3 separate regions of the Homo sapiens genome follow, and regions 2 and 3 are each reported to be linked to region 1. The links are microRNA targets in miRTarBase. Many come from high-throughput screens and were not tested one by one. Region 1 holds a microRNA gene; each other region holds the end of a gene's coding sequence. Distances are from middle to middle.

The links. The annotated mature microRNA hsa-miR-4779 reads UAGGAGGGAAUAGUAAAAGCAG and lies in region 1 at 1,322-1,343, opposite strand. An mRNA with a match to its seed (bases 2 to 7 or 8) in the 3' UTR can be bound and repressed. Matches are read on the target gene's strand: a 7mer-m8 pairs with bases 2 to 8, a 7mer-A1 pairs with bases 2 to 7 and ends in A, and an 8mer does both.
Region 2: miRTarBase lists HPCAL1 as a target of hsa-miR-4779. Seed matches in the 3' UTR shown: 7mer-m8 at 772-778.
Region 3: the mRNA of MLF2 is a reported target of hsa-miR-4779. Seed matches in the 3' UTR shown: 7mer-m8 at 920-926.

The regions. Positions count from the first base shown.
Region 1 is chr2:86,191,716-86,195,059 of GRCh38, forward strand. It overlaps MIR4779 (microRNA 4779), which reads right to left and starts at 1,393; the gene lies at 1,311-1,393. All of the region lies in intron 1 of IMMT (inner membrane mitochondrial protein), which reads right to left. RefSeq lists an enhancer at 3,248-3,297.
Region 2 is chr2:10,426,203-10,429,546 of GRCh38, forward strand. It overlaps HPCAL1 (hippocalcin like 1), which reads left to right. Exons shown (of 5, transcript NM_002149.4): 5 at 522-1,402. The coding sequence ends at 619. Among named protein-coding and RNA genes, the nearest start is that of SNORA80B, 19 kb to the right of the region's middle.
Region 3 is chr12:6,746,033-6,749,032 of GRCh38, reverse strand. It overlaps MLF2 (myeloid leukemia factor 2), which reads left to right. Exons shown (of 9, transcript NM_001382226.1): 8 at 51-263; 9 at 486-1,037. The coding sequence ends at 238. Among named protein-coding and RNA genes, the nearest start is that of MLF2, 5.6 kb to the left of the region's middle.

The DNA.
Region 1 (3,344 bases):
ACACGGTGAAACCCCGTCTCTACTAAAAATACAAAAAAAAAAAAAAAAAAAAAATTAGGCGTGGTGGCAGGCGCCTGTAGTCCCAGCTACTTGGGAGGCTGAGGCAGGAGAATGGCATGAACCCGGGAGGCGGAGCTTGCAGTGTGCTGAAATGGCGCCACTGCACTCCAGCCTGGGTGACAGAGCAAGACTCCATCTCAAAAAAAATTAATAAATAAATAATAAATCTTCCTAGGCTGGGCACTATGGCTCACGCCTGTAATCCCAGCACTTTGGGGAGGAGAAGGTGGGGATATTGCTTGAGCCCAGAAGTTCAAAATGAGCTGGAACAACATTGCGAGATCCCATCTCTACTAAAAGTCCAAAACATTGGCTGGGCATGGTGGCATAAGCCTGTAGTCCCAGCTACTCAGGAGGTGAGGTGGGAGGATCGCTTAAGCCCAGGAGATTGAGACTGCAATGAGTTATGATCACACTGCTGTACTCCAGCCTGGGCAACAGAATGAGACCCTATCTCTACACACACACACACACCCTTATTGTTTCTGTTTCTCTGGAGAATCTGAATATATAATCAGAGGTTTGAAAATCTATGGGATGTTTAAAGGGAGGTCACATCCACTTACACAGATTAAGAAAAATTCCACTTTGGGAGGCCGAGGTGGGCATATCACTTGAGCCCAGAAGCTGAAGACCAGCCTGGGAAACATAATGAGACCCCATCTCTAAAAAATCTTTTTAAATTAAAAAAAAATTCATGAACACATTCATTCTTTCATTTATATATGTCATAAACATTCACTGAGCATCTACTTGGAGCCAGGGACTATTGTTAATACTGGAAATACAGCAGTAAATATGGACACAGTTCCATTGTGGAGCTTACTTTTTAAAGGTGGAAACTGTGTAATAAATACACATTATAACATCAGGTAGTGCTAGGAGCTACAAAGTATAACAAAGTAGGATGGGGTAAAGATATAGTGATACAAGGAAGGCAAGAGTAGTCAGAATTCTATTTTGGATCAGGATGCCCTCTCTGAAGGGAAGGTGACATTTGAGAAATTAACTGAAGGGAATAAGTTAAGCAAACCTGTGAGAAGAGTTCAGGGCAAAAGAAACACCTGATGAAAAGGCAGTGAGGCACATGCTGGAGATTACCAGGAGAATCTGAGTGAGGCAGTAGAAAAATGAAATATGAGAAGAGTCAGATCAAGGGCCCATGGTAAGCAGTTTAGATTTTATTTTGAATGTGATGCGATGTCTCCAAAGAGCATGACCTCATGTTTGCCTTTTAAAAAGCCTTTTACTAAATGTCTTACTGCTTTTACTATTCCCTCCTAGAGTAAAGAATGGACTCTAGGAGGGAACAGTAAAAGCAGTAAGACATTTAAGAAGATGGGGTTGGCTGGGCACGGTGGCTCGTGCCTATATTCCCAGCATTTTGGGAGGCAGAAGTGGGAGGATCATTTGAGCCCAGGAGTTCGAGACCAGCCTGGCCAACACAGAGAGACTCCGTCTCTACAAAAATTTTTTAAAAAATTAGCCAGGGATGGTGGCACATGCCTGTGGTCCCAGCTACTCAGGAGGCTGAGGTAAGAGGATTGCTTGCGCTCAGGAGGTCAAGGCTGCAGTGAGCCATGACTGTGCCACTGCACTCCAGCCTGGGTGACAAAGTGAGACTCCGTATCCAAAAAAAAAAAAAGAAAGATGGGGTTTAATAAAGTGGAAAGGATCTTGACAAGTGAGATATTCTGGATACGTTGATACAATCAAATACGACGAGGCTAGAGAGTCACCTGCTTGGGGATTAAAGTTCTGAGAGTTGATGTAATCTCAAATTAGAGAGTCTATAAAGAGACAGGAAGAGATGAGAAGGTGTATATTTCGAGGTACAAAGCAGAAGCAGACTCAGTAAAGGAAAACAAGAGAGATGGGACCCAAAATATTACTTGAGAGAAGCCAAAAGTACAAAGAGCCTCATAAAGCAGCAATGTCAAATGCTACAGAATTAAGGAGATGGTGAGAATAAACCAAAGAATTTTACAAGACAGCAATTTCAAGAAGCTTAGACATCTTGATTCAGAGCTATAAAAGGGTTCATTTTTTATTACCAAGTTTTAATTAGTTTTCTTAATTCCCAAATGGGATCCCAAAAAGTTGACTCTGAATTAACTGAAAAGGAGGTCATCCAGGTGGGCCTGGTCTAATCACATAAGCCTTTTAAATCTGGGTCTAGAGAGGAAAGACCAAAGTAAAAGAAATTTGGAAGTCAGAGAGGCAAGCTCCTGGTAGCCTGCACGAAAGCAAACATCAATGTTATGAATGGCCTCTAGAGGCCTTGAGGCAAGGAACTGTAGGCAGGCTGTAGAAGCTGGGAGCAGTGGCTGGCAAGAGGCAGCAAGAAAAGAAGTACTTCAGTCCTGTAACTGCAAGGGACTGAATTCTGCCAACAAACTGCATGAGCCTGGAAGAGGACCCTGATCTCCAAATGAGAACCACAGCATGGCTAATACTTTGCAGCCTTATGTGACCTGGAGCGGAGAACACAGATCATCCGTGCCCAGACTTCTATCCTACAGAACCCGTAAGGTCATTCATGGGTGTTGTTTTAAGCTGCTAAATTTGTGGTATTTGTTACGCAGCAATAGAAAACTAACACAGGTTCGTTCCACTTTCCTATGGAAGGGGCTGCTTCTGTTACCTAGCAGCAAATAGGAAGAGAAGCGAACTTGAAAAAACAAAGCTTGACTTTTATGATCTCTAACTCACTATTCCTAGGGATTCTGTTCAATTACTGCTTGAGTCACAGTACTTGGTTTGCTATCTACATTTTGCCAAAATATCAACTTCCTGAAAATCATGAGCAGTGGAAACAGGCTTTTTAATTTTCAATTTTAGAAAGTAACTTTGGCAATTACGCAAAACTAGAAGTAACTGGGTATTTAGGCTCCTTGAATGTCAAAGTAGTCCCAGCGCCTGGAGACACAGATCCCTGCCCTAATCTCAGAAATGAGCCACAAGGTCATGACTCCTGTCTTTCCTTGAAGACCAGGAGTTTCAGCTCCACAAATGAAAATCTTTCGCTTTTGTTTGGATTAAGAATAACTCAGAAGTGTTCTCAGCTGCGAAAAGAAAGGCACTCCCTCCCAGATAATTACAACCTTGACCCCTAAAATGTGGACTCTCGCTAGAAGTCCAGGCACCTCCTTATTAAGGATGCAACAAGCCGCCGCTCCGCTCGTCCTGACGGGAACTGTAGTTCTCGCCCGTCGACCTTCAGCACTGAAAACCTATCGCGCGCCCAACCGGCGACCCAGACGCCAGCAGCCAGGATTGGTCCT
Region 2 (3,344 bases), 76 Mb from region 1:
GACCAATCTTTTTCTAGGTTTTCCTCTCACCGCATGGGGCCAAAACAGTACAGAGCATGAGTTTGGTACCCCAAGCCTGAGCAGCGGGTCTACGCTGATGCCAGGGAGGATCCGGACCGTGCTTCCGGGGGCCCCCAACCAGCATGGCCTTCTCAGCCTGGATTCTGTATGGGTTAGAGGCAAATGCTTCATTTTTCTGCACAGTGTACACGTTCCTTAATAAGCGAAGTGTGGGGTGATTTCTAAAAGGATTTAAATGGCCCTCATCAGCCACGTCCTGCTGAGCTTGCTGGGTAAGCCCTTTGAGGTACCTGATGTATTGCAGGGAGCAGGGAAAGGAAAAAGGATTTTTTTTCAGAAATGCCTGTAAAGTGAATGGAGACTAGACACCGTCCAGCTTCAAGAAGGCTCAGGACTTTCAACAAAGGGAGCATACCTGACCTGAGAGCTGTCCCCATCCTCTCTGGAAGCATAAAGAACAGTGAGCACTGGCTAATCCCATTGTCTCTGGTCCCCTGCAGGCAAACTGTCCTTGGAAGAATTCATCAGAGGTGCCAAGAGCGACCCCTCCATCGTCCGCCTGCTGCAGTGCGACCCCAGCAGTGCCAGTCAGTTCTGAGCGAGCGGCCCCTGGACAGTTGCAGAGAAACACAGGCTTGTCGTGCCGTTTAAGCTTTGCTTGCAAGAGTGGATGCCCCGCAATCGTTCCTGCTCTCCCGGGCCCCGGGCCTGGGGCATGCGTTGCACCTGCCCAGCCCGGTGGCTGCGCCTCCCTCCTCCACCTGACCAACGCGACATTCCTCCCCTCACGCCTGGCCCGGTCCCTTCCAGGGCAACTCCCAGGGATGTGGTGACATGCAGGGTTCAAGTGTTCTTGGTTCCAGGCACCTCCCGGCTCACGGGGAGCTCAGAGGTCCATGCCGAGGAGACCAGGCAGGACCTCCCGAGGCTGCGCCCCGGCCGGCCCATGCGTTTTGTGATCCCAAGTGACTCTGTGGGAAGGGTGGGGACGAGGCGTCGGGAGGGTATACAGGGAGCCCCTCCCGTGCATGGCTGCCCCCCCGTTCATTTTCTCCACCACAGCCGCTTGCACGTATAGATACTGTGGTCCCCTTTCTTTTAATATATAAATTATGTATGGTGAAGTGGAGTGTATTGTGTAGGTCCCGTATTTAATGCCTCTGACTGCCTTTGAAGCGCAGCCCTCTGTGGCCCGCAGCCCCCTGAGCCTGGCTGTTGTGTGGTATTTATGCTCTCTTTGTCTGCCTGTTTCTAAGGAAATGCATGTGTGCCCTGAGCCGTGATGATCCTCCCATCCGTGTTGTGAGCACAGGCATTTGTGTCTGGTCTGTCCTCCCTGTTGATTGGTCTGGCATTTCCGGTATTAAAATGATAAAATAAATGGCATTTTCTGAGTTTTGCGTCTGCCCGCGGGAGCCCCCATTCCTCAGGCCGTGGCCCCTGCACTCTCCAGGCAAGGCGGGTGTGCTGCGTGCCACCGCTGTTGGTAAATCCGGCCCCTCTTACGTCCCTCCAGCTGTCCCCGCGTTTATAAATCTTGCACAGCCTGTTCTTCAATATCTGCCTAATGCCAAGAAATACTCGTGGAAATAAACGATGACTGTTCTTGGCAGATCTGACGGTCAGGCTTCTGCCTCCCCCCAGCCCTTCCCTCTCCTTCTCCTTCCACGGTTTCAGGTCGTAGGAAAGCCACATTCCAAGAGAGGACGGGCATAGCCAAGGGTGCAGTCAGGCTGGACCCAGAGGTGGCAGGCCTGGTTCTCCATCCAGCCTTCGCCGCTGCCGTCAGTGCTTCTGGTCCCAGCAGCAGAAGGCCCAGCTGAAGAAGTGGGGGTTGGTTGGTCTCGCCTGCCAAGGGATCCAAAGGCAGCATCGCTGGGGATCCCCAGGCATCAGCTTGTCTTTTTTTTTTTCTTTTTTTAAGAGAGAGTGTCTCTCTATGTTGCCCAGGCTGGCCTCAACCTCCTGGGCTCCAGCAATCCTTTCGCATCAGCCTCCTGAGTAGCTGGGACCTCGGGTGAACAGCACTGCGCCTCCTAATCACAGTCAGCTTTTCACCTCAGGCTTGTCTTCCTGGGGTGCCTACAACTGCTGTTGTGGTTCTGGGCAGTACAGCTGACATGGGAGCATCAAGAGGCAGGGAGAGAAGCCTCTGTCCTCCCACTGAGGGACAGGAAAACCCTCCAGAATCTGCCCACCACCCCGTCCCCACCAGCCCCACATCTCATGGCTGAAACCATGGCCTGTGTTCACAAGATGACCATGTCATGGCCACGGCTGGCTTACGCTGGTCAAGATGGCCCTTGGCCAAGGTGGCATCTGCCTCCCCCAGAGGGCATAGGGTTGGGAAGGGGTGAGTGGAATGGAGGTTCTATTACCAGGACGGGCACTACGGCGTCTGCCCACCTGCCTGCTGCTGTCGGCTCCTCTGTGCCTCAGTGTCTTCACTGTAGGGGATGGGGGGAGCTGGGTGGCTCAAGGTCACATATGCAAAGCGCATGGCTTGGAACCTGCCTCCCAGCAGGCCTTCAGCAACAGCAGCTAATTTGTTGATTTTAGTCATTTTAATATTTTTTAAGACTCCATGTCTCTTTTAATAGAAATGGTGAGTCTGTTTGCCAAGTGCCTTCTGAGTCAATGGCACTGCTAGAGCTATTTCATAGTAAAACTCTCCATGCACCCAGAGCCACCAAGCCTTGATGGGGGAACCAGGTGGGGTGCGAGATGGAGGCCAGGTGCCCTGGGCAGATCTAGCTTGCTACAAAGAGGCAAGACGGTGCCTTTGGCAACACTGCCTCACCTGGAAGAACAGCCAGTGAACGGCTTGAATTTTATAAACATTTAACTGGGACTGGCAAAGGTTAAATCAAGAGTGCTTGTTGTGGGGAGGGCTCACTTATGATGGGGACAGAGTCCAACAGAAACAGATGGGAGTGACCACTACATTAGTCAGGGTTCTCCAGGAACAGAACTGATAGGAGACATGCATGGATGGGAGGGGTGGGTGGATGGATGGGTGGGTGGGTGGGTGGATGGATGGATGGATGGATGTATGGATGAGTGGGTGAGGGGATGGGTGGGTGAATGGATGGGTGGGTGGATGCATAGACAGGTGGATGCATGGATGGGTGGATGGATGGCTGGGTGGATGGGTTGGTGAATGGGTGGGTCGGTGGGTGGATCGATAGGTGGATGGGTGGGTCGATGGATGGGTCGGTGGGTAGATGGATGGATGGGAGTATGGGTGGATGGGTGGGTGGGTGGATGGGTCCCTAGGTGGATCGGTTGATGGATGAATGGGTGGCTGGATGGATGGATGGATG
Region 3 (3,000 bases), not on the chromosome of region 1:
TCCAGGAGCCAGGCCGCACACAGGCCTCATGTCCGCTCTGTCCTTTCCAGGTGAGGCCGCAGCGTTTGATGACGAGTGGCGGCGGGAGACCTCCCGATTCCGGCAGCAGCGTCCCCTGGAGTTTCGGCGGCTTGAGTCCTCAGGGGCTGGGGGACGAAGGGCGGAGGGGCCTCCCCGCCTGGCCATCCAGGGACCTGAGGACTCCCCTTCCCGACAGTCCCGCCGCTATGACTGGTGAGGGCCCCGGGCCCTCAGCCTCTCTTGTAAGTATCAGGAGTAAGGAGGGTGGGGTGCACCTGCGGACGGTCCTCGGCTGCAAGGCAGGCTCAGTTCAGGCTCCCGCAGGAGCTGCCTTTGGTAGTACAAGTTGACATGGAAAGAGAACAATGTTCTCACTGACATAGGGGATTAAACCCCAACTCCTGGCTCTTAACGTAAGTTTTTTCTTCCTTTTGACTTGTGCTCCTCTCTCTTTCCCCCTCCAGGTACAGGCTGAGAGGCTGAGAAATCATCCCCTGAATAACTTTTTCCTCTCGATTCCCATCCCCAATTTAATATTAAATTAACAGGCAAGCCGGCCCCCACCTCTCCCTGGGGGTCTCAGGGAGAACCTTTCACGGCACCCTTTCCCTACCTTTTCCTTCTTTAATCTCCTGGTTTACCATTGATGACTTCGCCTCTGCATCTACTGACTTGATTTTTCATTCTGCCACTCCATCTTCAAACCCCCTCACCTTTCCCATCCTACTCCTGCCATGCATTGAAGGGTCAATGCATTTTGGGGTGAGCTCTGGGTTTAGGGGCCCCCTCCATCCCTCAGCTACCCTGGATCTTTGCCCACCTCTTCCTCAGAGCCCCCACTGAGGGGCCGTAGCCCTATCTAGGGCTGTGGAAGGAGCAGACTGGTTCCTAACTCTCTCCCTCCTCCTGCCCACACACATCAAAAGAATCTTCCCTACACCCTTCTCTGCCTTTATTTTTTGATTTGTGCAACTTGTAACTAGGTGTTTATGGAATAAAGGAGAATGGAAAAAAGACCAAGTGGGATTCTGGCTGTACTTTTGATCTTTTCCTGTTCAATTCAACCCTGCTGTCTCCTCTGAAGTTACCTTCTCACTTTTCCTCGTCTCCACCTGTAGTCTTCGTACCTCAGAGTTCAAGCCCACATCTCCTTGGTACGGACAGACCATCAGCACTGCCAGGTGCAGGCCGTGAGCACTTGGCTGGGCTAGGCTGGGGCGTGAGAACATGAGCACCTCTCTCGCTGGCTCTTCCCTCACATTCTGCTGTAACTTTGCTCTTCAGGGATGTGTTGGGCATCTCTCATGGGTGCCTGCGGAACTTGCTGCCCCTTGCCCCTTGGACAGAGTTTCTTTCCTGCACTCTGGGTGGAAACACTTCAGATAACCCTACACAGGCCTTCAGAGGGGAGGAACTCTGGTCTGCAGCGTTCCACAAACCCTCCACCCACAGTAGTTGAGAATTTGAGCCCAGGGAAGGAGCCTAGAGAAGAAAACTAACCTGGAACCTGAGCAGGACTGGAAGGGCATGAGGAGCTCAAATTTCTCAAGACGTTTGCTCTTGCTTTGCCCAGCCAAATGGGTCACTCTGTTCCTCTTGGGAACTTACTTAATGATGACAAATGTGTAGGAGAGTCTGATAATGGTTTCCTCTTTATGAAAGTCTTGAGTTCTTTTCAGTTGGTAGGGACACAAAGACACCTAAGGCTCTGGGTCCTCTCAGGGAAGGGAGGATCTTCCCCTGTGTCTCGTGGACGAGTAGATTCAAGAGGATAAGGAGGATTTGTCCAGTGACTCAACAAGCAGAGAGATGAAGTTGAGCTCAACAACCAGGCACTGGTGTCCTAGTCCAGTGCAGTTACTAAATCTCAGTAAGTAGGCTAGGCTGGTGAAGATGCATGACCGGGTCAAGGGAACCCAGTGGTGAAAGAATCCAGGAATCCCAGAAGTCAATCTAGTGTGGATTATTCACCACCACCTGGGCTCTGAACTGTGGATGATGGAACTCAGCAGCCATGGCCCTCATCTTTTTATCTTTTTTTTTTTTGAGATGGAGTATTGCTGTGTCACCCAAGCAGTGGCGTGATCTCAGCTCACTGCAACCTCCGCCTCCCCAGTTCAAGAGATTCTCCTGCCTCAGCCTCCTGAGTAGCTGGGACTACAGGCGCACACCACCACGCCCGGCTAATTTTTGTATTTTTAGTAGAGGCAGGGTTTCACCATGTTGGCCAGGCTGGTCTCGAACTCCTGGACTCAAGTGATCCACCTGCCTTGGCCTCCCAAAGTGCTGGGATTAAGACGTGAGCTGCTACGCCTGGCTTCACAGCCCTCATCTTTAAGTGTAATCTTGCCCTGTCCAGATAAGCACACGACTGTTTCCTCTGAGAAGGGAGTCGTTTTCTTCACTCTCCTGAGAAGGCAGCAAGGTAACCTGGAGTTGAAGGAGCCTCAGTCCTTAGCTCGGCCACTGACAGCCTTGTGGTCTTGGGCAGGTCACTCACCTCCCTGGACCTGAGTTATGTGGGGCCCTTCTAGCCACAAAATATCAGGCCCAGCCTCTCAACCCGGATTTTAGTTCCAGTGCCCACACGCGCATGTGTAGTCTTGAGTGTGACTGCGGCAGAGTAAGGCTGCCCTGACCTCAGTCCAGGTGAGTCAGTCCAGTGTTTCAGGGACTCCCCTGTTCAGGTCCCAGCCTTTAGACATGTGAACTGATTTGTACTCCTGCTCCCTGCTGTAGGGTTTGGACCACCCTTCAGCCCAGCACTTACTCCTGGGGCCTGTGACTAGTTCTCAGCAGGGATATGTTGTGGGAAGTGAGGTGTTAGCATCAGTAGAGTGAGATGCTCAAGAACCAGCCCCCTAGCACGTCCTGACCTGTCTGCCACTGGGGTAAGGGCCACGGGAGAGGAAGAGGAAAGGAACTTTCCCGAGGGACACAGATACTCTACTTCCGGTCAGCTCTCCATCTGGGCCCAGC